Linked DNA regions of Homo sapiens: all the other regions are reported to be linked to region 7. Evidence: microRNA targets listed by miRTarBase, many of them from high-throughput screens and not tested one by one. Region 7 holds a microRNA gene; each other region holds the end of a gene's coding sequence.

What was found. The annotated mature microRNA hsa-miR-1297 reads UUCAAGUAAUUCAGGUG and lies in region 7 at 2,300-2,316, opposite strand. An mRNA with a match to its seed (bases 2 to 7 or 8) in the 3' UTR can be bound and repressed. Matches are read on the target gene's strand: a 7mer-m8 pairs with bases 2 to 8, a 7mer-A1 pairs with bases 2 to 7 and ends in A, and an 8mer does both.
Region 1: miRTarBase lists OTUD4 as a target of hsa-miR-1297. Seed matches in the 3' UTR shown: 7mer-A1 at 3,222-3,228, 7mer-A1 at 2,310-2,316 and 8mer at 392-399.
Region 2: the mRNA of ZNF608 is a reported target of hsa-miR-1297. Seed matches in the 3' UTR shown: 8mer at 1,905-1,912.
Region 3: the mRNA of AGTPBP1 is a reported target of hsa-miR-1297. The part of its 3' UTR that is shown has no 7-base or 8-base seed match.
Region 4: miRTarBase lists ALDH6A1 as a target of hsa-miR-1297. The part of its 3' UTR that is shown has no 7-base or 8-base seed match.
Region 5: miRTarBase lists FKTN as a target of hsa-miR-1297. Seed matches in the 3' UTR shown: 7mer-A1 at 1,939-1,945 and 7mer-m8 at 2,505-2,511.
Region 6: the mRNA of TRIB2 is a reported target of hsa-miR-1297. Seed matches in the 3' UTR shown: 8mer at 2,830-2,837.

What each region holds. Positions count from the first base shown.
Region 1 is chr4:145,133,630-145,138,299 of GRCh38, forward strand. It overlaps OTUD4 (OTU deubiquitinase 4), which reads right to left. Exons shown (of 21, transcript NM_001366057.1): 21 at 21-4,670. The coding sequence ends at 3,801. Among named protein-coding and RNA genes, the nearest start is that of ABCE1, 38 kb to the left of the region's middle.
Region 2 is chr5:124,634,495-124,639,030 of GRCh38, reverse strand. ZNF608 (zinc finger protein 608) reads left to right here. Exons shown (of 10, transcript NM_020747.3): 10 at 1,125-2,116. The coding sequence ends at 1,131. Among named protein-coding and RNA genes, the nearest start is that of ZNF608, 110 kb to the left of the region's middle.
Region 3 is chr9:85,543,059-85,547,728 of GRCh38, forward strand. AGTPBP1 (ATP/GTP binding carboxypeptidase 1) reads right to left here. Exons shown (of 26, transcript NM_001330701.2): 26 at 3,481-4,228. The coding sequence ends at 4,051. Among named protein-coding and RNA genes, the nearest start is that of AGTPBP1, 200 kb to the right of the region's middle.
Region 4 is chr14:74,056,475-74,061,129 of GRCh38, reverse strand. It overlaps ALDH6A1 (aldehyde dehydrogenase 6 family member A1), which reads left to right. Exons shown (of 12, transcript NM_005589.4): 12 at 384-4,283. The coding sequence ends at 488. BBOF1 (basal body orientation factor 1) reads right to left here. Exons shown (of 12, transcript NM_025057.3): 10 at 4,150-4,224; 11 at 3,872-3,986. Among named protein-coding and RNA genes, the nearest start is that of ALDH6A1, 26 kb to the left of the region's middle.
Region 5 is chr9:105,634,657-105,639,326 of GRCh38, forward strand. It overlaps FKTN (fukutin), which reads left to right. Exons shown (of 11, transcript NM_001079802.2): 11 at 395-4,670. The coding sequence ends at 608. Among named protein-coding and RNA genes, the nearest start is that of TAL2, 25 kb to the right of the region's middle.
Region 6 is chr2:12,740,515-12,745,169 of GRCh38, reverse strand. TRIB2 (tribbles pseudokinase 2) reads right to left here. Exons shown (of 3, transcript NM_021643.4): 3 at 2,436-4,655. The coding sequence ends at 4,376. Among named protein-coding and RNA genes, the nearest start is that of MIR3125, 5.5 kb to the right of the region's middle.
Region 7 is chr13:54,309,682-54,314,351 of GRCh38, forward strand. MIR1297 (microRNA 1297) reads right to left here and starts at 2,367; the gene lies at 2,291-2,367.

The DNA.
Region 1 (4,670 bases), not on the chromosome of region 7:
CCAAAGAATCACAAGCAGAATCAAGAGACAAAATTTAATATATGCACACAGTTTTATATATAATGCAGCATCACACCATGTAGGGCATTTACTCTTATTTTATACATTCAGATATGTTTGAAACACTTCTTAAGGCTACAAAACAGAACATAGAAAAATAAACAGGAATATATTCAACACTTACAAAAAGTGATATGATAAAGAATATAAAGTACTAGTTTCCTTTTAACACTTCAAAAGATATGTATATATACTTTTTTTTACAAGTAACATCACAAATGATCACATCTTCACATGCTCTTAAAGTATTATTTGTACTCAGTGTAAGGCTATTATCGTTTTTCATACATAAAATTTTCTAGCTCTGTAACACAATGCAATTTTTAATCCATTCAAGTAAGTTCAACCCCAAAGTTGCCGCTTCCCAGCATTAAGACATGCACCCACCCCTCTTCTAAGATTTTCTAAAACTTGTATTTCGGGGAGAAAGACCTCTTTTAAAAAATAATCCCAATTAGTGGGAGAGTAAATGGCTGACATTAGTAGCAAAACCTTAGTTATCTGAAAATAACATATTGGAAATGAGACATTATTAGGATTTTAAACAAACAATAGCATTTAGACATAAAGTAGGAAGCAAAATACAGTAAACAGAAATAGTGTAGCCAAATATGCATTCTCTTCAGCTACACTAGAGTGGACCTTGCTTAGTACCCTTAAGTAAAAGACAAAACATTTACCTCATCTAAAAATGAAGGTAAAACGAAAGAGGCAAAAATAAATATTGCTAGTTTCTAGGATGGCTGAATGTTTTCTAAACCAGAAATGGTTAGAAAGGAACTTTATTGCACCAAGTCAATCATAAGCAAGTTTGCAGTTCACAGGCATTTTAATTCAACCTTGAGTCACAAAGGAAACAACACGCTGCAAGAATACAGTCTGCATTAAATAAGATATATCAGCATTGTGGTCTGGGAAAACCTATGCTTGCCAGGACAAGGCAGGGTCTGAGCTTAGGTCTGCCATGAAAATGAATTTGTGGGTTATCAGTAAACAGTATGAGGACTACACAGATGCCAGCATCCTGCTGCCAAGGAGACATGGGGCAAGAGTTGAAGATTTGAGAGGAAATGAAGAGACATACACAACACCAAAGGGAAAAGGGGGCTGGAATCAAGTTCAGCCAAAGCACCTAACACAAAAAACAGGTGAGCTTTGGTCAGTCTGTTCTTCAAAATATGTATGATCATAATATGGTGAAGTTTCATAATTTCCAACTCAAAAATACAAATGATCCTCAGTTCTATACTTTTGCCTCTATTCTCTTATAAAGAAATATGTCAACATAACAGTATGACATAACAGTTAAAATGAAGGACAAAAGCTTGCTTATCCTTAGTTTGACCTCAGCATAAGGCAAAATCCCCTGGACTAATACATTTAAAAACAAACTTAAAGGAAAAAAAGCGAAACCAACCTTCATGCAAAGATTAATTTTAAAACTATCAAAAGTCAGTTCTTTTATTCCAGAGGTCACTGAGAAAAGTACCATCTGCTAAAATTCTCTTTCAAGCACTTCTTCCATCATATCCTAGAGGTGAGATATGGGAAACAGAAAGCAAATCAGTGTTTCCTTCAGGAGCTATATTCTGTTACTCAATTGAGGTAAGACAAAGTGACAATGAAGATATGAGTAGTATTTCCTTCCAATTTTTAAACATTTTCAGAAGCTGAGATCAAACCCCAGTCAATAAAATGCAGGACACTAGAAGCAACAACTTATTTTGGACTCCTGAGATCAAACACATTGAACTTTCAAATCTGGTGTTTGTATCAAAATGTGATTTTCATTAAAATCAGGTAAGCTAGTCCTACATAAAAAAGCATGAGCTGAAAGTGGAGGACCCTCTATCTTCTCATTCCTTAACTGAGCCACCGATGTTAAGAAAAAAATGGCTTAAGCGGTACCTTCAACAACTATTCTAGTTAAGAAGGTGACAACAAATTCCTTTCAATAGGTTCTCTCAAGAAAAGTTTTCCACACAACCATCCCAGTCTTTACAATTTTTTACCTAGCACCATCATAATAAAATGTTATCTTTCAAAGTGCTCTCTAAAATCCTGTTACATTATCTAAATGCTAATCACTACTCAAATCAGCAGTTACACAGACGTTAGGTAATTAAAACAGCACAGAGGTAAATAACCATTATTACAGTACAGTGGCGATTCACTAGCCCAACTGGCATCCAAACATTCCCATAGGTTATCAGAGAACCCAGAAAACCCATCTGTTTCAGTTTGTCAAATTCAAGTGAATTGTATTTTCTTAAGTAATTTGCTTTACAAAAAAAGAAAGTCACCGCATCTGGTTTTGGCTAGGTATATTACACATGGCATGCAAAGAGAAATTACTACTATGTTATTTGCATAGCACTCAAACTTCCTGATCAGAAGATAATCTCAACATAATAAAAGAGTGGATTTTCACATTGGTATGCACAAATAAAGAATATAAGCTACAGTTATTTTTACAAAATAACACAGATGAATGAATACTGTGTTAATTCAGAGTTCAATCTCCAAATGAGAACAGAGTGCAACATGCAAAGGGAACCTCTAGTGAATACTGCAAAGACTGGAAGAAAACAGAATGTAAGATGTTACCTACCTAAGGGTAACAAGCTATAAAATACAAAGCAAAACCATTTTCTAGCAGCATCCTCTAGAAAAGAACTAGAAGTCACAATCATATTATCTTCTATACAATAGTTCCAGCCCTGACAAGTAGAACATGCAAGTGTAAAGTGAAAGTGATACACAACCAATGGTGCGGGGGGGGGGGGGAGGAAGAAAACAACTCTAGAAACCTGTCAAGCTAAAAATTTTTAACATTTCTTCTCACAAAATATTTAGAATCTGTCAGTGCATTAGTGTTAAAGTGGCATTAAAAAAACTTCTGCAGTTCTAACTGATGCAGATTATTTTCAAAATGCATAGCATCTACATTTCTTTCGAGTAGGCACCATGATATTTACACCAGTGCTAAGAATTCTTGGTGGAAACAGCCATTTCATTGGATTTCCTACTATTCTTCTATGCAATCTCAACAAATACCAAAATTCAAAAATATACCTTATGAATATTAAAAGAACTATATACAACATTGCTAAGACACAGTTAATAGGCTGCCTTATGTGAATATTAAAGAGAAGACATTATTCAAGTTTGACAGATATTGAGATGAAAGGCCTTTGGGTTGGAAGCATTTTAAAAGACAACAGTGTTTTAGGCTGAGAATTGTTTGAGCCCAGTTTATGACTAAGGCATTGCATAATAAAATATACATTTCTATTTGGTGCAACGTTATGTTTGGAATCTATAGTGTGTCAAATGGTATATTTTCTTGTCACTTTAGTAAACACTATAAAGCACACATTTCCAACATCTGAAATCAAACTTATAAACTTATAAGGAAAAAAGCCAAACACTAAATCTATAATGTTTTATATTAAGCTGTTTATAAAAAATACTTTAACAAACTTATCTTCTACTTTTTACGGGGACAGTCACTTGATCAACAAACAGATTCTGAATGAAGAAAACTGGCAATGCCAGGAATTAACCTGCCCCCTTGAACTCATGTCCAAAATGTCTTGTCCAGTATGGGAGTGAAGGTAAGGGGGGCTGGGGAGAGGAAAGAGTTCCAACTGCGGTTTTTACTTTATTGTATTTTTTTTAAAGCCTTCAGAAACATTCCACCTAAGAGTTTCTGTTAGAAAATACTTCGGCAACAACCATCAAGTGTGCTGTCCCCTATGGCCATCTCCCATCCCTGATCTCCTCCTATCTCCCCTAAATGGTCGCCCTCTGACATTTCGATGGTACTGATAACCTTCATCCCGACTTCTGCTTGGCTGTCCTTTCCAGGACTCCTCACTTCTCACATGTTGATATCCACCCCTACCAGAATAGCCCCAATCACTTTTGTACTTCCTGCTTCCATAAGTTTGATTATAGAACTGCTTGGATCTACCACTTCTCAAAATATTAGACACTTCATTTTCATCTTCTGAACTCTCTTCTTTTGGTCTTTGCACTCTGCTATCAACAGAGTTGGCCCCAGGGCTGACCACATCAGCAGCAGTCTTAGGATCTTTTACTTTTTCTGTTTTTTCTTTCAGGCTTTGAATGGTCCTTTTAGGTTCAAGTTCAACAGGCACAGTTTCTCTCTCTCTGTTTAGAATCTGAGTGGGAGGATGAGCCTTTCCCTCTGCTACAGGAGGGATGGAAGCCAATGCCGTATCTGCCTTTCGTGTCTGGGAAGATTGCTCTGTCCGGCCTTCGTCCGGCTTACTGCTCACACTTGCTTCAGGGAGAGAATGTACATGTTCACCCCTGGCTTCTGGAAACTCATCTACTGTTGAAACTGAACCACAATCTTTAGACAGATCCAGATTTTCCAGAGACAGATCCAATTCTCCTTTTTCATCAGAGGGCAGGACAATATTCTGCCTCATTACTGGATTTTCTATGAATCCCTGAAAAGGGTACCCATACCAAACATGAGGAAAGAAAGGAGGTGCAATAGGAACTGGGCCTAAGAATGGATTGGGTCCAAAAGATGGCTGGGGGAACATATTCTTGCCACTTAGTGACTCTTCATAATC
Region 2 (4,536 bases), not on the chromosome of region 7:
TTTTATATCATTGTAATGAATGTGTTTATTATGCCAATATAAGTTGCTTCACATGCAACTTAAATTCCATGAACCTCATTCTGTAAGGGTTACATAGATTAGTAATTAACTGATTAGTTTTTTAGACAGTTGAAATTTTCTTGGGTTATCCTTACGGCATTTCTAAAATAATTCACCATGACTCCCTTTGTTTTATTATGTTTAAAGATAAAGTCGCAAATGGAGACATTTATTTTCATAATGCTAAAGGTAATGTTTGTTCTTTGATATTTTAAATTATTCCCTAAGTTTTATGAAGGAAAATGATTTAAAGGAATTAAATTATTAATATTATAAAATTAATATTTTTCACAATGTATATCATTACTTTATGTTTATTCACTTTCTCTGGAATTGAATTCCACATTTGAATGGAATTAAAATAAGACTATCGGTCTTATGGTTTTCTGGTTTACAGTGCCAAATGTTGATAGAGGCTGGGCATGATGGCCCATGCCTGTAGTCCCACCACTTTGGGAGGCTCATGCAGGTGGATCACCTGAGGTCGGGAGTTCCAGACTAGCCTGGCCAACATGGTGAAACCCCATCTCTAATAAAAATACAAAAATTAGCTGGGCGTGGTGGTGTGCGTCTGTAATTCCAGCTACTAGGGAGGCTGAGGCATGAGAATTGCTGGAACCCAGGAGGTGGAGGTTGCAGTAAGCTGAGATTGCACCATTGCATTCCAGCCTAGGTGATGGAGTGAGACTCTGTCTCAAAACTAAAAAAAAAAAAAACTGTTGGCCGGGTGTGGTGGCTTATGCCTGTAATCCCAGCACTTTGGGAGGCCGAGGTGGGCAGATCACCTGAGGTCAGGAGCTTGAGACCAGTCTGACCAACATGGAGAAACCCCCTCTCTACTAAAAACATAAAATTAGCCAGGCATGGTGGCACATGCCTATAATCCCAGCTACTCGGGAGGCTGAGGCAGGAGAATCACTTGAACCCAGGAGGCAGAGGTTGCGGTGAGCCGAGATTGAGCCATGGCACTCTAGCCTGGGCAACAAGAGCAAAACTCCGACTCAAAAAACAAACAAACAAAATGTTGATAGAACCGTGTGCTAAGGTTTGCTTTTCTTTTGCAGAGAATAACAAGATTGGACATGTACATTGTCATGTGACTGGATCACATGGGGAAGCGCTTTATACAGACATCAGTTCCATGGTGTTAATTTGAAATGCCTTAATGGCAGGCAAAAACCAGTCATTTCATTTTTGTAAATTACAGATTTTATCACAGAGTAACAAATGTTGCTGTAATTAAACTTCTGTTTTATATATATATACGTATACATATCTGTATATATACATATATATATATATAAATATAAATATATTCTTTACTTTTTGTATCAGTAACCAGGCTCGCACACACAGGGTCTGCTGCCACGTCGCAAACCACTCAGTAAAGGAAATTAAAAATGTATTTGTCATGTTAAAAAGTGTTAGCCACAAAAGGCTACTTACTTTCTTTTCCTTTTCCTTTAAAATTGTAAATAAATAATGTTATGTATCAGTGTGCCTGAACCTTGCATATCCTTCACATATTTCCCATAAGCCCCTCAGAAAGGCTAACTGTGATGATGACACTTTGGTACAATTTAGATGTCTATTTGGTGGCTCCTGTTAAAGACGCACCAGTGTAAAATGTTCCTGTAGTCACTGTTTGTACTTGTGTATTGTGGAAAAAGTACTTTTGGAAGGCATGGGGTTGCCAGTACCACAAAAACTGTGTTGTATATAATGTAAAGATTAAAATGGGGAAATAATGAGCATCTGTGAATAATGAGGTGTCATTTTTTGATAATCTTGAATGGCAAATAACCCAATAGCCTGCGTACCAGAGACATCTGTGATTGTTCTATTACTTGAATAGTTCTACAGTCTTTTTTTTTTTTTAATGTTTACAATTATCCAGTTTTAGAAGAGAGAGACTTTAACGCCATTGCCTGGTTACTTGTTTTATGCTGTAATCTAGTTTATTTTATGTAAAATGTATATTGAATGCTTTCCTTTTTTATACCTGCCTTAAATAATTTGGCAATCAGAATTAAAAAGTTTTTTTTTTTTTAAATAATGGCTTCTTGTCTGTCTCATGTTATTTTCTACCTGGCTGATAGTCATTCTAATTTTCAAAGAAGGGTTTCTTAATATTATTAATATCCAATGCATAAGATACAGTAAACAGATATTAACTTTTCTTATAGGATACATAGGTATAACAACCAAATAGTGTGTTTAATTCGGTGAATGTATTCCCATTTACAGGGTATTTACCCTAAACATGGAGCACGATATCACTAGAAATTAGTAGATACAGGTTTCTATGGTATGGAATGATACTTCAAAGATGCAAATGTTATGACATGTGGATAACAGGAAAAATATGTAAAAAGTCATTTAGTCAGTTAGCTGTCATTACATTGATTTACTAGAATATTTTATGCCAAATTTTAACTGCCTCTTCTCTCCCTTCTTTGCTTGGAACAAACACTTACTGAGTGCCTGCTTTATCCCAAGCACTGCACTGGGTTCTGGCATATTGCAGTAAACAAAGCAGACACAAATTCCTGTCTTCATGGAGCTTTCATTTTTTGGTGGGTGGGATAAACATATCATAAAATATCTGAATAATATATAGAGCATGTTAGATGGTTGATAAATGCAATGAAGAGAAATGAAGCATGGGAGTGGGGCATAGTGAATATGTGCTGGAGTTTGTAACTGTAAACAGAGTGGCCACTAAAGAGATGGGGGGGATCCATGCAGACATCTGGGGGAACACCACTGCAGTGACATGGAAGAGCAAGTACCGAAGCCCCAAGGTGGGAGTGTGCTTTGTATGTTTGGACTGGTTGATTTCAGTGCTCCATTCCAGCTGTAAGTTTTTATTATTTTACTATAATTGCTAATGACAGTGCTACCACGTGGTTTACTAAAAAGTTCTTTAAGCTGACGGAATTTGTCTTGGTATAATTTGGTTAGTTCTACCTAGAGGCCTTTGCATCAGAAATGAATAGAATTTTGCAATCAAAAAGAAATGTTTCCCTTGATTTTGAAAGACCACCTTAGAGTATTGCCTTTGCTGCTTGGCTTACACATCTAGTCTATGTTCTTAATAGATTTCAGTAAGAAGATATTTTTCTGTTAGTTTTCAGTTTTTCTTTTGAATTTCATCCAAGCTGTTATTTATAAAAATATCGTTTGTGGTGTTTAATCCTATACATAAGAGTATTTCACATATTTTTCATCATTTTTAAGCTATCAACGCTTTTTCGTTTTTATACGACATCTTGATTATCCTTGAAGACTTGAGGTAATTTGTCTTATACCAGTTAAGCAAGTATGTTTTCTCTGTTCAGACTATAGTTGGCAGGGTATCTGTTGGTTGCCTACATGCTGATCCAGTTCTTAACCAACCCCTTAACTGTCAAAGCACAGAAGCAGAACTAAGGTCAACTTACATCTTCACTAGCTGAATTTTCATGTTCTTGTTGGTAGCTGGGTGATACTGTGGATTCCTGATGATTTTCTTGCTCTTAATAATATATATGGAAGCCAATCTTACCTTTCAGCTGCAAAATGACTAGATGTATGTTTATTACATAGCAGGCTTTTTAAAATCACTTCTAATTAGGTGGTTAAGTAAACAGGTTATAAATAGCTGCATTGGACCATGTTTAACTCTGCTCCTGTAATAAACAGGAATGCTGATAAATACAAAGAGATATATGACCAAAAGCACATTGCAATTTGAATAGGCTCTTCCCCTAGGCTTTTACTGGAACATTATTCGTGACTGGTTTACATTAATCACTAAATGAAGTTTTGTTTCTTCCTCTTACTGTTACAGTGTTGTCTTTGCTGATGACAACATGAATTGCCAAAGGCCAGGGCTTATTTATATTACGTGTGCCATTTCTCTGGCTGAGTATATAGTCAGTACCGAGTGGTAAATTAAAGATTCCCAAAAGACAAGTGTACTTGGCTCCATTATATTACTATGATGAATCTGCCATTAATACATTCTAATTGTTTTACTTTTATAGACATAAAATCAGTCCCCTTAGTGACTAATAATAGGGTTTATTGATTTTACTAAACATTACTCATTCCAGGCCTGCTCATATCAGCTTGTCCTGAACATATGCAAAAAGCCTGCAGTGCTGACACAGTGCAAATTAACTTCATGGAGAAATGGGAGTGAAGAGTTGTTTACAGCTGTGGTCCCCTTGAATACAGAATATTAAAAACCAGGTAATAGGCTCCATACAGAACCATTTATTCCTAGATTACAATCTCAGATGACTTTTTCATGGAAACTTGCCATTGCTGTTCAGCCCAGGTCATTAACACTTGCAGAGTAAAACGTGTGGCCTTATACATTCACACTGGCTGTGACCCTGATTTAGTGTGGTTTCAGCCCAAGGGTCTGTGAGTAACCAGAATGAATAGCTCTGATTGATGCAGGATAAAAACAGCAGTTTAAATGATAAT
Region 3 (4,670 bases), not on the chromosome of region 7:
ACCTTGCCTGAACAAATTTCACAAATTCAAGAAAGATCCTTGAGCTTTAAGCAGTCTTCACTCTTTGGGGAAAGGCAAAGGATAGCAGCTCCTTTGTGGTAAGGACATGAGGCAGTTGTCAGAAGACCTGGGCTAAAACCCTGGCTCAACCCAAGTGCCCCTGTGACCTTACTTGACCTCCTTGATTCTACAAATTAGTTTGATCTAAATTCTCCCCAATGCTAATCTGCAGTTCACAACTCCTGTGATTCTCAGGAAGGAAGGTGTGATGCTGGAAGAGCATACTGGATTATACTAGTGATTCTCAAAGTGTGGCTCTGCAGCATCACCACCTGGGAATTTGCAAGGAATGCACATTCTTGGACCTCCACCCCAGGTCTACATAATCAGCAATCTGTGTCTTCAGAAGATTCTGATGCACATTACAACGTGAGAACCAGTGGACTAGACCAAAACCACATTTAAGAGATTCAAAGTTCCAAATGCAAGGTAAAGGAAATAAATCTAAACTCCATCATCAGACTCAGTTTATCAGATCCCATCACTGCTGCACAACGTAGATCATTAATTTTTAGGACTATAGCATTGAAGACATCTAAGCCATAATTTAAATACTGAATAACCGAGAAAAAAAATGAGGCCACAGAAGCAAAAATAAGGGCAATTTTAGCTACTAATAGCCAATAAAAGTTAATTATATTTCTAACTAGGAAAGTTAGGATTTTATTTTAATTTTTTTGTTTTTATTTTTTGAGACAGTCTTGCTTTGTCGCCCCAGCTGGAGTGCAGCGGCTTGATCTCGGCTCACTGCTGCAACCTCTGCCTCCCAGGTTCAAGTGAGTCTCATGCCTCAGCCACCCAAGTAGCTAGGATTACAGGCGCATGCCACCATGCCTGGCTAATTTTTGTATTTTTCGTGGAGGTGGAGTTTCACCATGTTGGCCATGCTGATCTTGAACTCCTCACCTCAAGTGATCCACCCGCCTCGGCCTCTCAGAGTGCTGGGATTACAGGCATGAGCCTCTGCACCCAGCCCTAAATTTTTTTTTATATTTTCAAAGCTATTTATTGTTTATGAAAAAATCATTTCCTAACTATAAAGAATTTCTCCTTCAATCTTGTGAATATTTAATAAAAAGCTTTATTCAGGCTCATAATGTATGCTAAAGTACTTCATTAATATAAAATATTATAATACGTAGTTAGGAGTTTTTACACTAACATAATAAATGGAAATATTTGAGTCATTCTGCACATTATAGTAACTGTAGTTACTTTTAATTTCTAATTTTGTAAAAGCCAAAAACAAATTCATATACAGCCAGCCCTCCATATCTATAGGTTCCATATCCACAGATTAAGTCAATCTCAGGTAGAAAATATTCAATAAATAATAAACAATTTTTAAAAACGCAAATTTAAAAAACTGCCAGGCATAGTGGTGAGTACCTGTAGTCCTAGCTACTTGCGACGCTGAGGTGGGAGGATTGTGTAGGCCCAGGAGTTCGAGACCAGCCTGGTCAAAGTGTCCCATTGTGAGTCCTCGTCTCTTAAAACACACACACACACTATACAATAAAACTATTTACAGAGCATTTATATTTATATTGTATTAGGTATTATAAGTAATCTAGAGATGATTTAAAGCATACAGGAGGATGTCCATAGGTTAAATGCAAATACTACTCCATTTTATATCAGAGACTTCAGCATCTGTGGATTTGGGTAACTGTGGGGGGTCCTGGAATCAATCCAAGAATACCAAGGAACAACTAACTGTATGGACATGGTGGCTCCATAATCTACTCTCTGAAGAAGTATAACTATAATAAAACATGTAATTGTTTTATACATAAAATATACAAAACATAAAATAATTGTTTATAATTATAAATAATTAAATAAATGATTACTTTCCTTCCTAAATTATCCTGATCTTTCCTAAATTTGGTTACTACACTAAGAGGACTAGTTCAACTTCACAGTCTATTTGATCTTTGTTTTCTGAGATTAGTAAGAATTAGGCTAGGGAAAAAGACCCCTTTTTCAATTGCTCCATACTACATTTTTAAACATGGCTCCCCAAACATCAGAAAGAATCTACACTGTTAATGAAATACTTTACATATTAAAAAGAAAAATCATTGATTTGGACCATGCAAAATTCTGAAATACATCTCTATCATTCCAATTATAACAGGTTAAAAACACTATAGGAAAAAGTGAGGAAGATATGTGCCAAAACCTAAGCACCTGAATCCTGGCGAAAATCTGCAATGAGGTATCTTTTGGAGGTTGTTTTATTATATCAGAAACTTAGTTCTTAAAACACTTATCCAAAGTCAATGGATTTGCTTTATTTTATTTAAAAATAAAGTCATTCTTGCAGCAAGAGGGCTAAAACCCAGGTAGGTTTCATTACAAGAAAGGATTTAGCCAGGCACGGTGGCGCACGCCTGTAATCCCAGCACTTTGGGAGGCCAAGGCGGGTGGATCACGAGGTCAAGAGATCGAGACCATCCTGGCCAACGTGGTGAAACCCTGTCTCTACTAAAAATACAAAAATAAGCTGGGCGTGGTGACGGGTGCCCGTAATCCCAGCTACTTGGGAGGCTGAGGGAGGAGAATCGCTTGAACCCGGGAGGCAGAGGTTGCAGTGAGCCGAGATTGCGCCACTGCACTCCAGCCTGGGTGACAGAGTGAGACTCCGTCTCAAAACAAAAACAAACATACAAACAAACAAACAAAAAAAGGGTTTAAATGTACTGCAGTCATCTAGGACTCTGATACCAGCGTCAGCATGCCCTAAGTCCATTCACTTCAGTAAGTCTAATAACACAGCACAGCTCGAGATGCTGAATAAGCTCAATAGACAAATGCACACTTAACATCAGATCATCTCCTCACTGCATTTTTCAAGCTTCTTAACAAACTGTTCAACTGCAGTGATATACTTTAGGTGTATCCGTGAGGCACAGTATTAGAGAAATGGGCTGTTCAGATATATCTCTTATGATAGGTGTGGGTATACCTCTATCATAACAAAATCTAACAGTAGTATATTCGGCTTTTTTTTTTTTTTTAAATTGAGACAGAGTCTCGTTCTGTCACCCAGGCTGGAGTGCAATGGCACTATCTCAGCTCACTGCAACCTCCGCCTCCTGGGTTCAAGTGATTCTCCTGCCTCAGACTCCTGAGTAGTTGGGATTACAGAAACCCACCACCATGCCTGGTTAATTTTTGTATTTTTAGTAGAGACAGGGTTTCACCATGTTGACCAGGCTCAAACTCCTGACCTCAAGTGACCCACCCACCTCAGCCTCCCAAAGTGCTGGGATTACAGGCATGAGCCACCATGCCCAGCCAACTTTCTTAAAAACAACTTTTTATCACTGTGTCCAATTCTGGGTTTTTATCACATTCTCACAAAGTTCTATACATCAAATAATCTGAGCTGGTTAAAGAAGATGACAAAATGAATGCAACATTTAATACAGTTTTTATTTGTTTAATTTGGTAAATGTAGAATGTAATGGTTTCAAGGCAAACCCTGGACTACTTCAGTCACAACCCAATAGTTAACATGATTCTGAAGAACAGTCTTATCTGCAATATCTACCCACTTCTAAACAAACACATCTATAGAAATCCATGTACATATATATTAGTTTTCAACAAGTCAGGATTTTCAACAACTCTAAAATTTCAATTTTATATTCTGAACACACTTCAAAATTATCCACTTGATGCAGGATATAACCATAGGGAGATAAAAATTCATGCAATGATACTCAGGTTTTTTTTTTAAAGGTAAATCCAATATTTGATCATTCAATGCTACATAAAGTGCATTGAATATCGAAAATAAAACAAGCGCCAATTTTATCATTAATTAATAACACATTTATTATCTTGAAACCAAACTGGCCCAAGTTACTTTTTGTCTTTTTGAGTCAGCTCTGTATAAACTCATTTCTCTCAAGCTTCCTGGGAAATAAAAACCAAGATATTTCATTTATTCTTTGCAGTTAACAAGAGATGGCAGCGGGCTCAAGGTAGGTATGTTCTTGATAATTCAGAGTCAGAAAGTACTTCTTCTTGAGCAGAAGGTTCATAATCTCCTACATTTTCAGCCAACTCAATATCTAACTCATCATTACTTTCTGCACTGTAATCAACTTCTTCAAGGAATCGAGGTTCATCTTCATCCAAGACATAAGTGGTAGGGCTGCAGCCAAAACACACAGAACATACAAGACTTTGTGAGGTCTTAAGGTCCTAATATAAGATTATTTCACCATACTGGACTAACTTTGATTCCAATATAATATAAGCTGCATTAACTTTAAAAATCTTATCCAAATGAACAAGTTGAAATTTATAATAGGTGAAAGTTCCTTGTATTGACAATAAGCAGTGAAATGTGAATCATTAATTGTATTACAAGAGTATCAATATATATCCTAAAATTAGATAGATAGCTTAAAAAACAGTGAACTCTCTCATCAGGTTATTTCTTTGAATGATTTCATCAATTTGCAGGCTAAGATTTATTTTTTAATTCTACTAAAATCACTGTGTATCAGGCAAATATAATTTCAATAGTCCTTACAAGAAACTGTGAGCATTTAATTGGCTTCTCGAGTAATGCACTAAAACCACTCACTCTA
Region 4 (4,655 bases), not on the chromosome of region 7:
AGCAGGTGCCTGTAATCCCAGCTACTCGAGAGGCTGAGGCAGGAGAGCTGCTTGAACCCGGGAGGCAGAGGTTGCAGTGAGCTGAGATCATGCCACTGCACTCCAGCCTAAGTGACAGAGCAAGACTCCATCTCAAACAAAAAAGAAAGAAATACTAGTTTCAGCATAATAATGATGGCTAAGGTTTGATTGTTTACTATCTGCCAGGTATTATGTTAAATGTTTTAGATCAATTATCTTAGGAACAATATATATTGGATTCTGATTGCATTTCTCAATTAGGAAAGTGAGTAGCACTTTATAATACCTCCTTCAAAAGCTAATTAAAAGAAGAATCATGAAACCCCAGAAATATATGCTAACTTTTTTTCTGTTTTCCTTAGGGCATCCAATTCTACACTCAGTTAAAGACCATTACTTCTCAGTGGAAAGAAGAAGATGCTACTCTTTCCTCACCTGCTGTTGTCATGCCTACCATGGGCCGTTAGAAACAAGTTTGTTTAAGACTGACTCCATCCTGAGTAATCTCCCTTTATTTTTGACCAGCTTCATTTGTCAGCTTTGCTCAGATCAGATCGATGGGATTGGAATACATTGTAACTAAAATCTTCCTCAGGACTATTAACCCCCGCAAAGTTTCTATAGGGAACTGCCTAGTGTAACAATGAAACCAGATTTCTCACTTGCTCTTCATACTTCTATTTTGAGGTAACTGTTGTAACTATGAAATGCTTATCTGAAAGTAGTGCTTAAACCTGATTTCTAAAAATTATCCCATTTTCTGATGATTTGAAGGGGAGAAAAGCCAGTGTATGTAAAGAAAATGTTCCAGCCAGGCGCGGTGGCTCACGCCTGTAATTCCATCATTTTGGGAGGCCACAGTGGGCAGATTGCTTGAGCCCAGGAGTTGAAGAACGTGGCGAAACCCCGTATCTATTATTTAAAAAAATTGAAAAAGTAAAAAAAGAAAAGGGAAAAAAAATTTTTTAAAGAAGATGTTCCAATAATTGCAAGAAGAACTCTTAGATGGGGAAACAGGACAGAAATAACTCACCGCTTTTGGTTGATCCTCAAACATAGCGCTACCTAAATGCCACTGGGAGAGACCTCCTGCAAAGTTTTCTTTAGCCCCTCTTTTATCCCACAATACACAAGATATAATCCATTTTTATATATCCCAAAGTTGTGGCAACAGCTTCTTTCTTTTCTGCTCAATGCCACTTTGTTTCCTAGTAATTCATGACCACTATTAATTCTATCATTGTCACTGCTCCTGCTTAAGATCACTTCTCAAGGATACCTCAGTAAGCAATGGATAAATCAACTTTTTGTTATATGTGCCAAGTACTAAGTTTCAGGGTTCTCTTCAGCAATCATTAATTAATACTTCAGCCATTAATTCAGATGCAAATAATTTTCTTTTTTCTTTTTTTTGAGATGGAGTTTCACTCTTGTTGCCCAGGCTGGAGTGCAATGGCGTGATCTCAGCTCACCGCAACCTCCGCCTCCCAGGTTCAAGCGATTCTCCTGCCTCAGCCCCCCTAGTAGCTGGGATTACAGGCATGCGCCACCACACCCAGCTAATTTTGTATTTTTAGTAGAGACGGGGTTTCTCCGTGTTGGTCAGGCTGGTCTCGAACTCCTGACCTCAGGTGATCCGCCTGCCTCGGCCTCCCAAAGTGCTGGGATTACAGGCATGAGCCACCACACCCAGCCAGATGCAAATAATTTTCTTAGAAAATTATTTCAAAAGTTATTTTAGGCCCAGAAATCAAGGATTGTTCCAACCATGAAAATGGGTAAGACACCTGCCTTAAGCAAATCTAACCTGCTATTACTTGCCAAATTTTATATATTCTTTTCTCTTGCCTGTATTTCTAATTAGTGATTTGTTTAATGAAGAACTCTTCATGTAGAGCAATTAACTGGGCCTAAGAAATTTCGAAGCTTTCCATGACATAAAGTGGTTAAAAAAAAATGCTTTGACAGTCTTCTTCTGCCATTAGTTCAACTGCCTTTACGCTTTTTTTTTTTTTTTTTTTTTTGAGATGGAGTTTCACTCTTGTTGCCCAGGCTAGAGTGCAATGGCGTGATCTTGGCTCACTGCAACCTCTGCCTCCCGGGTTCAAGCAATTCTCCTGCCTCAGCCTCCTGAGTAGCTGGGATTTCAGGCATACGCCACCATGCCTGGCTAATTTTGTATTTTTAGTAGAGACAGGGTTTCTCCATGTTGGTCAGGCTGGTCTCGAACTCCCGACCTCAGGTGATCTGCCTGCCTTGGCCTCCCAAAGTGCTGGGATTACAGGTGTGAGCCACCACCCCCAGCCGCCTCTATGCTTTTTGTTTCTTTGATATATCTAAACTTAAGGTCAGAACAGAAATTCATGTGCTGAACAGAATGGATTCTTTTTGCAGTACCAATCCAATTGAATCCTCTTTTTATTTTCCTGCGTCCTTACCAGTCACTTTGATAGTGCTAACTAACCTACACTATGGGGGTTATTCATGAATTAAGTATGATAAAAAAAAAAAAGACCTTGAAAATGTTGTGTACCCTGTGGATTTGAGGCTTATTACTACCACCTGGCTGGATAAAATGTCAAAACCTTCAATCACTTAAGGTGACTGGAACTTTTGTAAAATACACTTATGATCCTACTGGGCCTTTTTTTTTTTTTTTTCTGCTTTCCTAAATATGAGGCAATAGAAATTTATAATTTGAGACTACAGTACCCCTTGTTTTAGCTCTTATCACAGCTGGCAACTGGTAGTGATTTTTTTTGTTGTTGTTTTGTTTTGTTTTGAGATGGAGTCTCGCTCTGTTGCCCAGGGTGGAGTGCAGTGGCACGATCTCGGCTCACTGCAACCTCCACCTCCTGGGTTCAAGTAATTCTCCTGCCTCAGTCTCCCGAGTAGCTGGGATTACAGGTGCATGCCCCCACACCCGGATAATTTTTTGTACTTTTAGTAGAGACAGGGTTTCACCATGTTAGCCAGGATGGTCTCAATCTCCTGACCTAATGATCCGCCCACCTCGGCCTCCCAAAGTGCTGGGATTACAGGCGTGAACCACCGCACCTGGCCCTGGTAGTGATATTTAATCCAATCCAACAACTATAGGCTGGGTTAAATAAAAGGTCATTATTGTCTATATTCCAAGTGGAATTAAATGTAGTCACAGAGATTCCTAACATTTTCCTTATATTTAAGGGAAATCACTTCTAAAAAAACACACTAATCAGAACTGTGATGCTCTAATTAGAAACAACTCATCTGGCCAACTATTTGCTGCTCAGAGTTTCTTATTTCTTAGATGAAAAAAACTCATCAGTTATATTCATGTGATCGCGGCTAAAAAGTCAGTATTTTCTTTTTGTTCTAATGTGGCTTCATTTGAAATTTCTCAGATTCTACATTGTACTAATTATGAATAACAAATTATAAATTAAAAACTCTTAAAGAGAAAAACTTGGCTTAAAAAAATCATTTCATATCTCCTTATAAGCCTTTGTCCTCTAGGTTGTAATGACTCTGACTTCCCACCTGTGATGGAAAGCTAAGAGTCACAAGGTCACTATGTTTACTCTTACGTAAAAGATAGTACACATTTTGGCTAGGCTGTTTACTTCAAAAGGCAACCTATAGGTTTCTACACAAAAAGAGGCACACATTTGCATTTGCATTAGTATAATATGCATTTGTACGGATATTGCTTTAAAAATTTATGTAATCTACTAATGCTATTTATTACTCATTCCACTGATCCCTGAAGTCTCTCAACTAGTAGAGAAAATAACCGTGATTTAGCAAGAAGCGACATGGGGAAGGGTGACAACAATATACATTGTTTGATTAGATACAGACTCCTTACTGTGTCAGACTCCTGAGGTTCTTTTGGAATAGTGGGTAGCACCACTTCACCAGAAGAGTCTGATATTGCAATTTGCTGGGTGATGAAGATTTTATCTTGAAGCTTACTTTCATCCCTGCAATAATGACAAAATAACAGAACCGTCAACAACTCTACACACATGAAACCTGGTTTAGAATAACAGACTTGTCATATTACTTTCAATTAGCACATTCAAGATGCCCACAAGAACCATCGTGTTGGGCTCATGTTTATTACTTAAGCAAGAGAGCTCTTACCCAAATTCCTTTGTTTCCCCACTGTCAGAAACAACATAGTCTGGAACTGGAGGCCTAGAACTCTGGTTGTATTTCCTGTAGTGGGTAAAAGTCAACAAAGATAATGAATGAGGCAGTGTCTCCTCATGCCTTCATATTTTCTTTTTGTATTTTAATTTTTTTTTATTTTTTATTTTTGTGGGTGATAGTAGGTATACGTATTTGTGGGGTACGTGAGATGTTTTGATACAGGCATGCAATGTGAAATAATCACATCATAGAGAATGAAGTATCCATCCCTTCAAGTATTTATCCCTTGTGTTACAATCCAATTACACTCTTTTAGTTATTTTAAAATGTATAACTGGCCAGGGGCAGTGGCTCATGCCTGTAATCCCAGCACTTTGGGAAGCCGAGGTGAGTGGATCATCTGAGGTCAGGAGTTTGTGACCAGCCTGGCCAACATGGTGAAACCCTGTCTTTACTAAAAATACAAAATTAGGGCCGGGCACAGTGGCTCATGCCTG
Region 5 (4,670 bases), not on the chromosome of region 7:
TTGTGAAAGAAAAGAAAAAGATCATTTTCATCCATCTTTTGACAGCTTTCTACTTTGACACTTCTTTCCTCTACAGTTCCAACAGAAAGCCCAAGGCTGACTTTGATTTGCCTGACTTGGGTATGTTCCCATCCCTGCCTCAATCATTAACTTACTGGCCTGAGTCTTAGTGATGGGGTCAGCCTCTCCTCAATCCTATGAGCTTGGAACAGGAAAGGAAAATTGGAGAAGAGGAAAGGGATTCTGGACAGTCAAAAATAATTAAATATCCACTCTCTTCCCAAAGCTGTGTAATGGGAGAGCACTGTCCTTCAGCCAATAATGCACTAGCAGCTAGATTCCTTAGCTAGACCTTCTTCCACTGTTGAAGCCTAATCCCTCTGTTTTGCTGCAGATACCTGTTTCCGAAGTTTACACTGTGCTGGACTGAGTTTGTAGACATGAAGGTCCATGTACCCTGTGAAACCCTCGAATACATTGAAGCCAACTATGGTAAGACCTGGAAGATTCCTGTAAAGACGTGGGACTGGAAGCGCTCTCCTCCCAATGTGCAACCCAATGGAATCTGGCCTATTTCTGAGTGGGATGAGGTTATCCAGTTATATTGAGATAGTAGGTTGAAATGGGAGAATTTCTCTTTTGGAAAAAAAGGTAGATAACTGTTTAAAAAATACATGTCTATTTGTCAAACATAAGTGGGAACCAAAGAAAAAATGTGACAAGTTTGAAGACACAGAAAGAGTCATCTGATGTAATTCTCTCACTTAGTACTGAGGAATTTTCATGTGCCACATACAATGCTAGGTTACAGTGGAGAAGCCTAGATGAATGAGACAAATACCTACTTCTTTTATTCCTCCTTTTGGTAAACAACTCAATTTTCCTTTGAGGGAACCCTCCCCCACCCTTTGAAGAGTTCAAGTTCTGTACAGGTTTTTAAAACGTGAAGTAATGTTTGAACTGGAAGATGAGCTCACCAGGCAAAGCTAAGGAAGGATATACTAGTTGAAAAGAATAACCCACTCCTCTTCTGGGCATTTAAGCTGGTATGTTAGTGCTACTTTTAAGATTGTGGAGTCTGAGTTAATATTCAAGTGATCAGACTTTGAGTGACATCAAGAAAAGATGATATCAGGTTCATTTTTCAACTAATCTTATGTGGAATTGAATTAGAGAACAAGGCATTATTCTTTTAGGGAAGGTGAGAGCTTATTTGTATCAGAGCTTATTACTTGTCAGGATAAGTAAATTTCTGTACATGTACTGTTTTCATATGTGAAGTGAGAAGAAACTTTATGCTTGTTTAATGCTTAAATTTCCATCCATTGTGAGAATATTTTCACTGACCTCTGATGGCACTTGTTGACAAATCATTCAAGTGAGACCATGTTACTAGACATGATCTTGAAAGAGGCCATGATTTCACAAAACTCATTTTTATTTTATTCTCAGACAGTCTGTTAGGTAAAAATATGAGAAATTCATGTACATTTTATATTTTCTGAATTTATAATCTGTGCACTCCCAATTTTAATGACACTAAAATATTAATAGAATTTTTTAAATATACTCTAATTTTTAAAACATACTCTTTATTATCTTCATTTATCAATTACAGCTTCGTATCTCTAATTTATGGTCTATATACCAATTTAAATGGCATGTAAACCTGCCTGTTTCTTCTCCTCTTCTAATATATCAGATCTCCAAAATGGAAGCTAAATGGTGGACTTGACAACTATTCACCCTACCTCAGATCATAGAGTTTGTAAAGTTTGTGTCCCTCCCCAGTTTTTCAGTCTGTTGAATGTCGATGGGGCAAGAACTCAGACTTCTACTTTACCAAGTACCACACACTCTGGAATGCTTTAGTTTCCTTTTCCCCTCAAGATGTCTGAGTCAGCTAGGATGCTGTTTACCCCATCTCTCTCTTATATCACTTGAATGATATATTGTAAGTGAGAGGTAAAGGAAAATGTAGGCACAATAAGCACTGCTATTTTTCTCTTTGTCTAGGAAAGGAAGCTGAATCTTATATCTTATCTATGCTATTTAGGACTACTTTCTGGAGCTTGGCAGATTTTCCTCTGACACCAGAGAACAATAGTAGTCTCAAGAATGGAAACCTGAATGTCTGAGGGAATGGGCTGGTAGACTTTTTCGAAAACAAATTAGAGAAAGTAACTTACAACCACCCATTCCGGATTTGTAAAGCAACATGAAAACCTTTGATAAATGATAACCAACAGTCTTCTGTCCTAATTTGCATTCTCAATGCAGAATTATTGGGTCTTTCATAAATAACATGAGTGGTTTCTGGAGACATTTAAGATTGTCAGCAAACTTGTCCCAAAATGGCACATCATCATAATCCATTTTCTCTTTGCTAGAAAATCAGCCCATAGAGTGCATTCCCAAATTCTAAATAGCTGACCCTAAATTCATTTTTCATGCTTAAAAATAATAGAACAAATAATAATACTATTTTTGGGCAAAATCCACCCTACTTGATGAGGACCATTTGCTTGTGCTCAGTATTTAGAAATGCATACACTCCACATTTCTCCCCATTTCCAATTGGGACTCCCATTCTTTGCCAGGAGATCTTACCCATCCCTTTTCAGATTAATCTTTTATCCTTTCCTGAAGTACAAAGTCTTAAGAGTGTCTGAAATCCAAGACATCTTGGCCCAATTGACACAGGTTCTATATTCTTCCCTACATAGACCACTGGCTGCTGAAATACTTTTCTTGTCTTCTGGTTTCACAGGCTTCAGCTCATGGGTTCCACCCTAACTTGGGGAAACAAAAGCCTTCTCTAGAATCTGAAGGCCAGGCTTACCTCTGATTCTGATTCATCCATACTTCATCTTATGTATTTTAACAGTTGGGTTCTGTGGAGTGTCCAGAGACCTTGGGTTAGGTATATCCATCTTCAGTACCTCATTGGATCACTTTTCTTTCATCACTTGAGTATTCTAGCAGTCATTCTCCTAATCTGACCACTTTCAGGTTTAGTTTACCTGGCTTACCTGGGGAAGTTGACAACTTGTTGGTAGTTAGGCACCCATGAATGTCTCCAGAGACATCCTGAGAGGCAAGATTCCTCTTAATTGATAACCAGGACAACCAGGTAGTCACCCAGTCCTCTCTAAGCAGGGAGCACTTGTCCTTCTCTCCTCTGCTGCAGCTACTGATATCTGGCCCCTGGAATAAAACCATAGTTCCTAAAATTGAGCATCCCTAAGAGTAGCTGCTTGGTGGGACAGCTGATTTCTTTGATTCCCTAGCTGCAAAACCTGAAATTGACCACTAGGTGACAGAATGTTTGCCAGTATCCCCACAAAACAAGTTAAAACTTAAGTGAAAATCATTCTGCTTTTGAATCTTAAAAGCTAGAAAAACCATAATGTAATATTCTTTTTAAACCCTCTTATTTTATAACTAAATAAATAATCACAGAAAAGAATGATCTGAACAAGAACAGCTGAGGCTAAAACCCAAGACTGCCGTGACTCCTAGTCCAATGTCTGTTTCGCATCACAACACAGTATCTTTAACAGTGCTTGAGATGCTTAACAGAGAAGGCATCCAGTGCTTCATTGAGGCTAAGTCTCAGGGTGTTTCTGCCGCTTAGTATCTTTTTGTTCAGATTGAGAACCTAAGGCGACAGAGAGGTCAAGGGGAAGTATTTTCTAGTTCAGAATTCAGAATTCTTAGGCAACCTTCATACCTTTATCTGGAAAATGCCTTCTCTCCAGACAATAAGACAGTTCACATCTGGAGACATCAGCCTTTGGTACCTAATTCTCTAAGCTCAAGATGCATCCCATTGCCACTTTACCATTCTATTTCCCAAGGGAACCATCAGCACCAACCTGCTAAATGCCTGTATTTGAAGTCTCTCCCCTTCCTGAAGTGACCTTTTATGAGGCTCTTTCCTTCCTAAGGGACCTTTCCCTGGTAGTAGTGGTCTCATTCACAAAAAAGAATAATAGATGTAACTGGAGTCACTTTGCAGTTTTCAAGATTTTTTTTTTATCTGCTTGGCTGGAAAGGAGACTAGAGTATCTAGTTTTTAGTATTTAAACTACTTTTAATTATTTATATTGATACTCTCTGATAAATGCAGGTAGTTAAGAATAGATTGTACTCATTCCTTTTTGAGTTTGTGACCTCAAACCATTGTTTTTATTCTTACACGACTACAGTACTTCAAATGGCACATAGATAGGCAGGATATTACATAGGTAAGCAGGAATTTATACATTGGGTACCAGAGCTAAATCTGGAAAACACATTTGGAATGAGCTTCCACACTTCAGTCTAAAATCTCACCCAAACTTATGGCTACATATTTTTCTAAGTTTCCCCCCTAGTTTCACTTTCTGGAAAGTGAACAGTTTTTTAAATCCTAAATGTTATAAATCCTTAGGAGAAATATTCCCTCAAAACCTAGTCAAGAAAGTGCCACATTCCCACCTTCTAACAGGTAATTATTAGTTGTAATAGCTTTAATGCATGGAAAAACTTCAGTTACTGACCAGTCAAGAGAATTTCTCAAGAAAAATCCCAGCAACGTTCCCTCTTTCCTCCTTGTCTTCCACTATCATTAAGACCTGGGCTAGATCACCTCTAACATCTCACTCAGGGAAGGCAATGTGTTGCCA
Region 6 (4,655 bases), not on the chromosome of region 7:
TAAGACTTGGACTTGATAGTGGTTTTCAAACATATTATCTCAGTCCATTCAGGCTCAGTGTAAGGTACAATGAAGTACCTTAGACTATGTAATTTATAAATAATAGAAATGTATTTCTCCCAGTTCTGGAGGCTGGGAAGTCCATGATCAAGGTGCCAGCAGGTTCAGTGTCTGTTGAGGGTTACTCTCTGCTTCAACATGGTGCCTCTTGCTGTGTCCTCACACGGTGGAACGGACAAGGCAGTTCCCCTCAACTTCCTTTATAAGGCCACTAATCTTATTCATGAGGACAGAACCCTCATGACTTACTTCCAAAAGGCCCTGCCTTTTAATGCTATCACATTTGGTATTAGTTTCCAGCATATGAACTTTGGAGGGACACAAACATTCAGACCATAGCACATATATACAAGCGAAACTTCTCATTTTCCTTCCTAAAAGTCTACATAACAACTAATATGTAAAAACTGGTAAAAGTGGAGCTGCTTCGGTTGCAGCAGGGGAGGGTCTCTGTAACCTGTGTTTGACGGATCCTAATAGATCCTCCATTCCGGTACCACTGCCCAGTCAAAAGAACTCTGCCCTGGAATCCCTGTGGCTGATCATAGTAACAGTCGCTATTCCAGCCTAGGCAGGGCTAAGCCCTTCACACACTTTAGCTCAGTCGACCCTCCCAACAGCCTTGGTCCTCATAATAGGCAAGTAGTTCACAGCAGCGTAGAAACTCAGAGCCCAGGCCTGCTACCTCGCCACACCTCTGCCCTCATTCCTGTGGCCCAGGCCCCTTGACCTGCCCCAGGTCCAGATTGGTAGAAAAAAGGATAAAGTGTCTTATCACCAAGGGGATTAGAAAATGAAAGGTTTCTACTGGCTAAGTCTTCAGAGGGCAAGGGAGCAGGAGCTTGCTGGGTCTGGGTTTCCACCGCGGTGGAAGCTCATTATATAGTGGCTTGGGGTGTGCATGCCAGCAACCCACCCCCGGCCCCCAGCAACCACACAGGCGAATGGTCGACAGTGCACAATTCAAACGGGCATTCATTAGGCAACAGACCCATGTCTGCTTAATCACAGGCAGGGAAAAGAACAAAAAAATTGGATCAGCCTATATGTGCCCTAGCAAAAGCCAATGATAGGTGTCAATACTTACAAAGTCTGCTCCTGTTATAATAATGTGCATCTTAGACACCTGGGGTTGGAAGGAAATTTTGGAGCATATAGAGGCCACCCTCTCCTGGCACAAATTATATCCATGAACAGTTATTTGCTGAACACCTCCATGTGCCAGGCACTGGGTCAGGTGTCTGCTGCTGAGCCAGGTGCTAAGGACACAGAAGGGATGTCACTGAATAATAAGCACTTTGTGAATTTAGAAGACTGGTCCAAATGGCCAGGAAGCCTCTGCTTCAGCCACATCCTCTTGTAAACCACAAACTCCAGTCTTTGCAAGATCTTTTATGAACTCCATCCAGGGCTTGGCATTCATGGTGTTAACTGGGATAAGTCTCTAAATACTTCTCACACCATCCTCCCTGCATAGAGTGCTGCTGCTGTCTCTCTTATTATCTAAATTCTTTTCGTTCCGGACTCTGCTTCAGGTGCTACCCCTTCCAGGACACCTTCTGACGGACCTAGACAGGAGTTGTCCATCTGATGGGCTTCCATCAATCCTGCGTGTGTGTACCCCACCACTTGATTCTACTCATTGCATTTGTCTGTTTCCATGTCTCTTCCCAGCACACACTGAAATAACAGAGGTGCTTAGCAAACATTTCAGGAGAGAATTGAGCTTCTCTGGGCCGTAGTTATTTCTGTTAAGTAAGGTGCACTACGGATGCGACTGTCTATCGAGCCCCAGCAACCTTGATATTTGCGGATCTCAGACTCAAGTAAGGGCTGCTGGGCAGATGTTGTTGCTGGGAGTTGGGTGGTCTCCTAGGAGGGTTCCACTCAAGTTTGCAGCACAGGGCTTTTCCTGGGGAAACCATGTGTAGGCCTGGATTACTTGTGCCCTACGTAATCCTGGTTACTCTAGAGCTATTACTACACTCTCCCTGAGAACATCTGGACTCTTAACATTGTAGAAAGAGTAAACAAGCTTTGTGGCTAACCAGACATGGGGTCCAGTCTTGGGCCTAGCACTCACAAGTTTAACCCTGGACAAGGCATGCACATTTCTGGGTTTATTTCCTAATCTGTATTAGGAACGTAAGTTAGGTCACCTACAGTTGTTGTGACGATTAATTCAGTGTGAGCTATTGCATCCAGATTGGACAGCATATGCCCCAATACGATGAAAGGGAGATTCCATGTCTTAAAAGTAGTAGCAGTGGCTCACCCTGAAAGAGCAAATGCCTGTAAGATGTGAGCTTCTGCCCGGTGTGTGGTGACCACAAAGCACAGGTGGCAAAAAAATCATCATTTTCCAGACTCCAGCATTTTAGTTAAATACGCACAATTTTATTGATTGAAGAGATTAGGACAAAAACATTAAACCAAATACAGGACAAAGCACCAGAGGCCATAGATCCCCACCATGCATGTCACCAACCTCTCCTCCTCCAAGGTACTTAAAAAATAGGGGAGAGGGGAAAAAAAAGGTCCTTCTTGACACAGCACCATCTTCAGAATGTTAAAAAAAAAAAAAACCTTCTCTCCTTTCTATCTTCCATTAGCAAAATAGAATCAAGGGCAAATCCATGGCCGCCTTGTCTCCTGGTTACGAAGGGTGAAGCCGCCCTCCTGGGAACGTGAGGACAGGGCTCCTGCTGCGCAGGCATAAAGCATCCAAGAGTCTGCACATACATGCCACACACTATTATGAAGCACAGATTCAAGTAACATTTACATACTAGAGTCCACGTGTCACCTACCCAAAAACAGGACCATTTCACAAAACATATACAGGCAGTCAAATCCGAACAAGTGAGGTACTGGGAACACAAATATTTATGCCAAAAGAGTTCTGTATCATACAGCAATAGAAAAGCCGTAATAAAAAACATTTTGCCACTCGAAATCAAATAAAGCTATCTAGAAAAGCCAAGTAAAAGGTTATTTCAGAGACAGAAATACTCAAACAAGGAAAAAGAATTATAAATGTTAACTACAGCATGTAATATGTCATCCCAAGTCAACCCGTAATTGAAGTACTGGCTTAATACATCACAATGTGACATTTTCCTTAATAAATAGAAGAGTTCTTGAAAATACAAAGGTGCGTATTGGGATAGAGAGCTGTTTTTATTTATATCATCATAGCTTTCAGCTAATTATCCTTCCCGCTTGTCTCTACTGAGGGTTTTTGTCCAAACCAGAGGGCCTTACAAGCCTTAAAAGGATCATTCTCTGTAAAGAAAACTAAATAGCTGCCCTGTATTTTATACATGTGGGACAACCTGCTTTGTTTCACTAGTTTCTAATAAAACAAAGACAAATGTTTAGTTGCGATCAGAGTACTGCAAAAGCATCAGACTCCAGGAGCTTGCTAAAATCTCAGGCCATTGCTATCATCTCAGCAAAGAGGAATGCCTGTCACACAAACCCTCATTGTTCAAAAGCAAAACATGAAAAAGGAGTTGGATTTCTCTTTTCCTTTCTTCTTCCCTTTTCTTTCCCCCTTTAAACTAAGATAGCAGTAATGCATCTGGACGTTTGACTTCTAATAGCTTCCTGCCACGAACCAATTGACACAAAACAGAATAGCTTGTTAAAGGACAGATTTTTTCCCCCTTCAGGGAGCAAAGCATTAACATGTCATTTCCTGACCAGGATATTAAATAGTTTATTTAGAAGAAATGAGTTGAAGTGAGCGATTAAGAGACACAAACTGGACTTTTGTTTTCTTTTACTGTAGCACCCAGGTTTCATGTCAGTCTGTGTGCACCGAATTTTTTTTTTAAGTGAACCTCATTAATTACCAGCTAGGTGGTTGGCTTGTTTAAAAGAAAAAAAATTCTTGGCCAACTGTTCCTTCCCTGAATCCTAACAAGAAGTTAAATGCTAACAGTGCGATGCCAGGATGTGTGTTTGAGGCAGAGAGTTTTGATTCTGTCAGGATCTGCAACTATTTTGGAACAAAATGAAAAGTGGGGTAGGCGGAAGTGGCCCAAGTGGCAAGGGGTGGTCTCCCAGGCTATGTTAGGGAAGACAAGCTCCAGCGGGCTCCCATCCATCTCACCCCAATCCCCATCCCACGCCTCTTGCCCCCATGCTACGTGGTCAGTCAGCTCCTTGAAGGTTTTCCTGCTCTGAACCAAGAAACTTAAGAGTGTGTCTTTCTTGCTACTCAGCCAGGCAATTCGTGTCCCCCGGAAGAACTCCTTTCCGCTGCCCTCGCTCACTCCTGGAACCTGCTAAGTCTCCGTGGGGCATGAGCTCAGTTAAAGAAAGGGTCCAAGTTCTCTTCCATGTTGACGTCCGGCACCAGCTGGTCAGACACTTCCTTAGCACCATATGCTGAATTCGAGACGCTAAAATCTGTAGAAAACCAAGGATGGTCCAGAATTTCCTGCGAGGTCAGCCGCTCTGAGGGCTCCCGACGCAGAATGCTTCGGATGAGGCACTTGGCCTTGGGCGACAGAGTCTCTGGAATGTTGAACTGGCCACGCCGGATCTTGCTGAAGAGGGAGCTGGGTTCAATGTCATGGAAAGGGTAC
Region 7 (4,670 bases):
TAAATGGCAGAAGTGGAAGTATGCAGTAGGACCAAAGTCTGTGCATACTCACTTTCCTGAGATGTGCTTTACATTGCTTTACTTTTAGCATATTTCTTTTTTTGTTTTCTGAAATTTGGTGACTTATTTTTTTCTTTTTTTCAGGGTTGATGTTTTCTTATTTTTAAAAACATATTTATTTAAATTGACATATTAAATTTTATATATTTATCATGTACAACATAACACTTTGAAGTATGTATACATTGTGGAATGGTTAAATTGAGCTAATAAACATATGCATTACCTTACACAGCTATTTTGTGTGTGTAGTGAGAATACTTAAAATCTACTCTCAGCAATCTTCAAGAATACAATTCATTGTCACCATATTGTGCAACAGGTCTCTTGAACTTATTCCTCTCATTTAACTAAATTTATTTTTTCTTTGCTTAGAAACTTGTTTACCCACCACTTGGACTAATTGTTCAAATCTTCCCTGATGGGGACACAGCCATCTGCATGCAGACTGCCTCCCACCAAGTCCAAGAGCCCCTTCTCTCGCAAAAGGGCTCTCTCTCCACTCACTCTAACACATCAGAGCTGTTCTGTCCCTTCTCTGTTTTTTAAAATTCTTAGCTATCTTGAAGTCACCTTTTTTCCCTTCTCCTCTCCCTGTAATAATTCTAGTTCCATCTAAGGACTATATCAAGTAGTAGTTTCTGGCTTGTTTCCCCAGTGGAATGGTGAATTATTCAGAATTATTATTATTCAGAATTATTTACATGTAAAACAGCATAATGATGTATTTCTAATCTCTACTGTGCCAACACAGTAGAGAGTAAACAGCAAGCTATAAAAAATTGGAAGACAAAGATAACTAAATATATTTTATTTTGGTAATAATGCACTAAAATGTGTAACTTTTTGTTGTTTCCCATTTGAAAACAGTTTACATCAGTACTGGAATGTAATTTGGTAAGCATTAAAAACTCAGTTTATAAGTAATTCTTTAATATTAAACAGTGTTTTTTAGTATCAATTCTACCATAGTATAAAATTATATATTATATGTTTCATATTAGTGTGTATCTGTAGGTATACACATTATACCACACACACATAAATACACTGCAATAAGGAATACTGGATGGAAATTGTGATTATAATAATGCCAGAAATGTTAACCCAACTCTTGCTAAATGCTGTTACATATTAAAGAAGAGAAATGAGAGAAAGAAGGAGAGAAAGAGGAAAGGAAGGAGAGAGGGAGGGAGGCAGGGAGAAAGGAAAGAGGATATCCAAAAAGTTAACTAAGTTTATCCCTAGGTCTCCAAAATCAACATTAAGTGCCTAGTCACATAGTGCCTCATGCGTGTCCGTGTGAAAAGACCACCAAACAGGCTTTGTGTGAGCAACAAGGCTGTTTATTTCACCTGGGTGCAGGCAGGCTGAGTCTGAAAAGAGAGTCAGCAAAGGGTGGTGGGATTATCGTTGGTTCTTATAAGTTTTGGGATAGGCGGTGGAGTTAAGAGCAATGTTTTGGGGGCGGGGGTGGATCTCACAAAGTGCATCCTCAAGGATAAGGAGAATTACAAAGAAACTTTGTAAGGGTGGGGGAGATTAGGGTGGGGCAGAAACCAACCACAATGGTGGAATGTCATCAGTTAAGGCTATTTTCACTTCTGTGGATCTTCAGTTGCTTCAGGCCATCTGGATATATACGTGCGGGTCACTGGGGATATGATGGCTTAGCTTGGGCTCAGAGGCCTGACACATAGAAGTTTAGTTTGATACCTATAAAATCTGTGTTCTCTTTAACCTTTTGAAACACTTGCTAATGAATCACAAAGATAAAAGTCTTTCAAATGTATACACTGAAAACCTATGTAACACTGACAAAATGAAAGTTCTTTAGTCTCTCCCCACCTTTAAATCGAAGAAGTCACTGAGTGAGGATTTAGACTTAAAAGCAATTGTGACTTGCCTATGACTTGCTTGTTATGATGTCACCTTTACCCAAGATTTACTTTGGAACCTATGATTCATTCTGGCATTTTTACATGTCTTTTAATTGTCAAAGTTCAGACTTGGGTTTTTGGTATCTCTAAACTTATCATCGCTAAGAGTCCTTTGTAATAGTCTTTCAAAATTAATGAATCAAATGCTGGTGAGCACATGAATTTCTGAAGCATATATTTTTTTAAAGCCAGGCTTTAAAAGTCAAGGGTGATAAGAAAGAGGATCAAGTAAGTGCTACAGCCAATAATCCAACTCACTCTTCAGTGCTTCTGAATTTAAAATTAGAAGTGTTTCACTACACCTGAATTACTTGAATTACTTTGGCTCAGATAAGTAATTCTAATAGATCAACCCTAGAGATAAACACCTAACTTTAAAATTAGACTCACTGAAATGTCTGCTCTCCTCAAAATATCATTTTACAGGTTGAAGATGTTGTCCTATGAAAATCTAAGATGAGAAACACATTATGTATGATACATTACATGCAACATATAAACTTGACTCACTTCTCAACATTTCACATTTTTGTGTATTTATACAGTTAAAATACAATTCAATGGACTCCTCATTATACTTGTATAACTCTAAAGGGAAATAGTAGAAATAACAGTTATTGTAGTGTTATGCTACTGAAAAAAACTAGTTAGCTTAGGTCAAAGGATAGAAAAATGGAATGGTAAGCAATTACTGAATCATTAAAAGAAAGGAAGAGCTAGATTCCATGAAGCAAGAGATCAAAGGAATAAAACTCAAGCAGAGGTAAATTCATTGCTAGCTCTATTCCCCTTAATGCAATAAAACAAATGAAGAATCAGTTAAGTAGAGAGTACTTTCCATTATATCCAACATACTAATCATTTCTACCCTTCAATGGCTTGTCAAATTTCCATAAGTAAAAAGCATTATTAATATAGAAGTACAGTACATGACCATATTTTTCCTTAGGGATCATGCAATTTCAGAAATTATTAGAGATGGGAGTTAACATTCCTACCTACTCCAGCAAATACCCTTGGGTAGAATGCAAAAGTAAAAAGTGATGTAAATAAACATGGAAGAGCAAATCAGATAAACATGGGGTAAAATGGATATGTAGAGATACTCTACTATAATTTATCAAATCTGTTGTTAATCTATTGAAAAATCTGGGTATGTCATCTTCAAATTGACTACAAAACATGATTGTATTTTCCAAATGGTTAGAAGTAGACACTATTGAAAGGTGACAACGTGTTAGCAGCCCTGGCTCGCTCTTGGCGCTTCCTACGCCTTAACATCCACTCTGGCTGCGCTCCAGGAGCCCTTCAGCCCGCCGCTGCACCATGTGGGCCCCTCTCTGGGGCTGGCCAAGGCCAGAGCCGGCTCCCTCTGTTCCTGGGGAGGTGTGGAGGGAAAGGTGCAGGCGGGAGCCAGGGCTGCATGTGGTGCTCGCGGGCCAACACAGGTTCCCGGTGGGTGCAGGCTCCACGAGCCCCACTCTCAGTGCGTCCTGCCGGTGCCTGCTGGGCTAGATCAGGGAATGAGCTTGCTCTGGGCTGCCAGAGTGCCCGGGCTAGGTGCAGAAAAGTCCTGCAGTGAGTGACAGTGAGAGGTGAAGCCAGCTGGGCTTCTGGAACAGGTAGGGACTTGGAGAACTTTTGTGTCTAGCTAAAAAATTGTAAATGCACCTATCAGCGCTCTGTGTCTAGCTAATGGAGTGGGGACTTGGAGAACTTTTGTGTCTAGGTAAAGGATTGTAAATGCACCAATCAGCACACTCTATCTAGCTAAAGGTTTGTAAACGCACCAATCAGCACTCTGTGTCTAGCTAATCAGGTGGGGGCATGGAGAACTTTTGTGACTAGCTAAAGGACTGAAAACGCACCAATGAGCACTCTGTGTTTAGCTAAAGGTTTGTAAATGCACCAATCAGCTCTCTGTAAAATGGAACAATCAGCAGGATGCGGGTGGGGCCAGATAAGGGTGAATACGGGGAGTAAGAGCCAGCCCCTCCCCCCCCCTCCCCGGCTATTAAGACCCACATCGCAAAGGGGTGAGGCACCCCCCACCATACGGGGAGTAAAAGCCAGCCCCTCTCCCATCCTGGTTATTACGACCCACGGTGGACTCACAGCCTGTTTACGATATTGGGAGTAATATCATCTCCCCCTCTGGAAATTATGAACTATTTCACAGACGAGTGTACACCCTCCGTGTACAGAGGGTGTACACCCGTCTGTATTGGGAGTAATATCATCCTCTTCCTCCCTGAATATTCAGAACAGTATCACAGGAGTGTTTCTACTCCCTGCGATATTGGGTGTCATATCCTCCTCTCCCACGTGGAAATTAGAAACAATATCAGTGGGGGCGTGTACACCGTCTGTGATATTTAAAGTAATATCATCCTCTTCCCTCCAGGATCATGGGAACAATATCCCTGGGGTGTGTACACTTTCTGCGATATATGTAGTAATATCACCCCCTCCGCCTTGGAATATTATTAAGGACCATCTCACACGGGGATGTACACTTCCTGCGATATTGGGAGTAATATCAACCTCTCCGCCTCTGAATATTAGGAACAATATCGCAGGGTGGGTGTACACCTCCTGCTCTATTATGGGGAGTAATACCTATCATGGGGAGTAATATCATCCTCTCCCTTTCAGGATATTAATAACAAT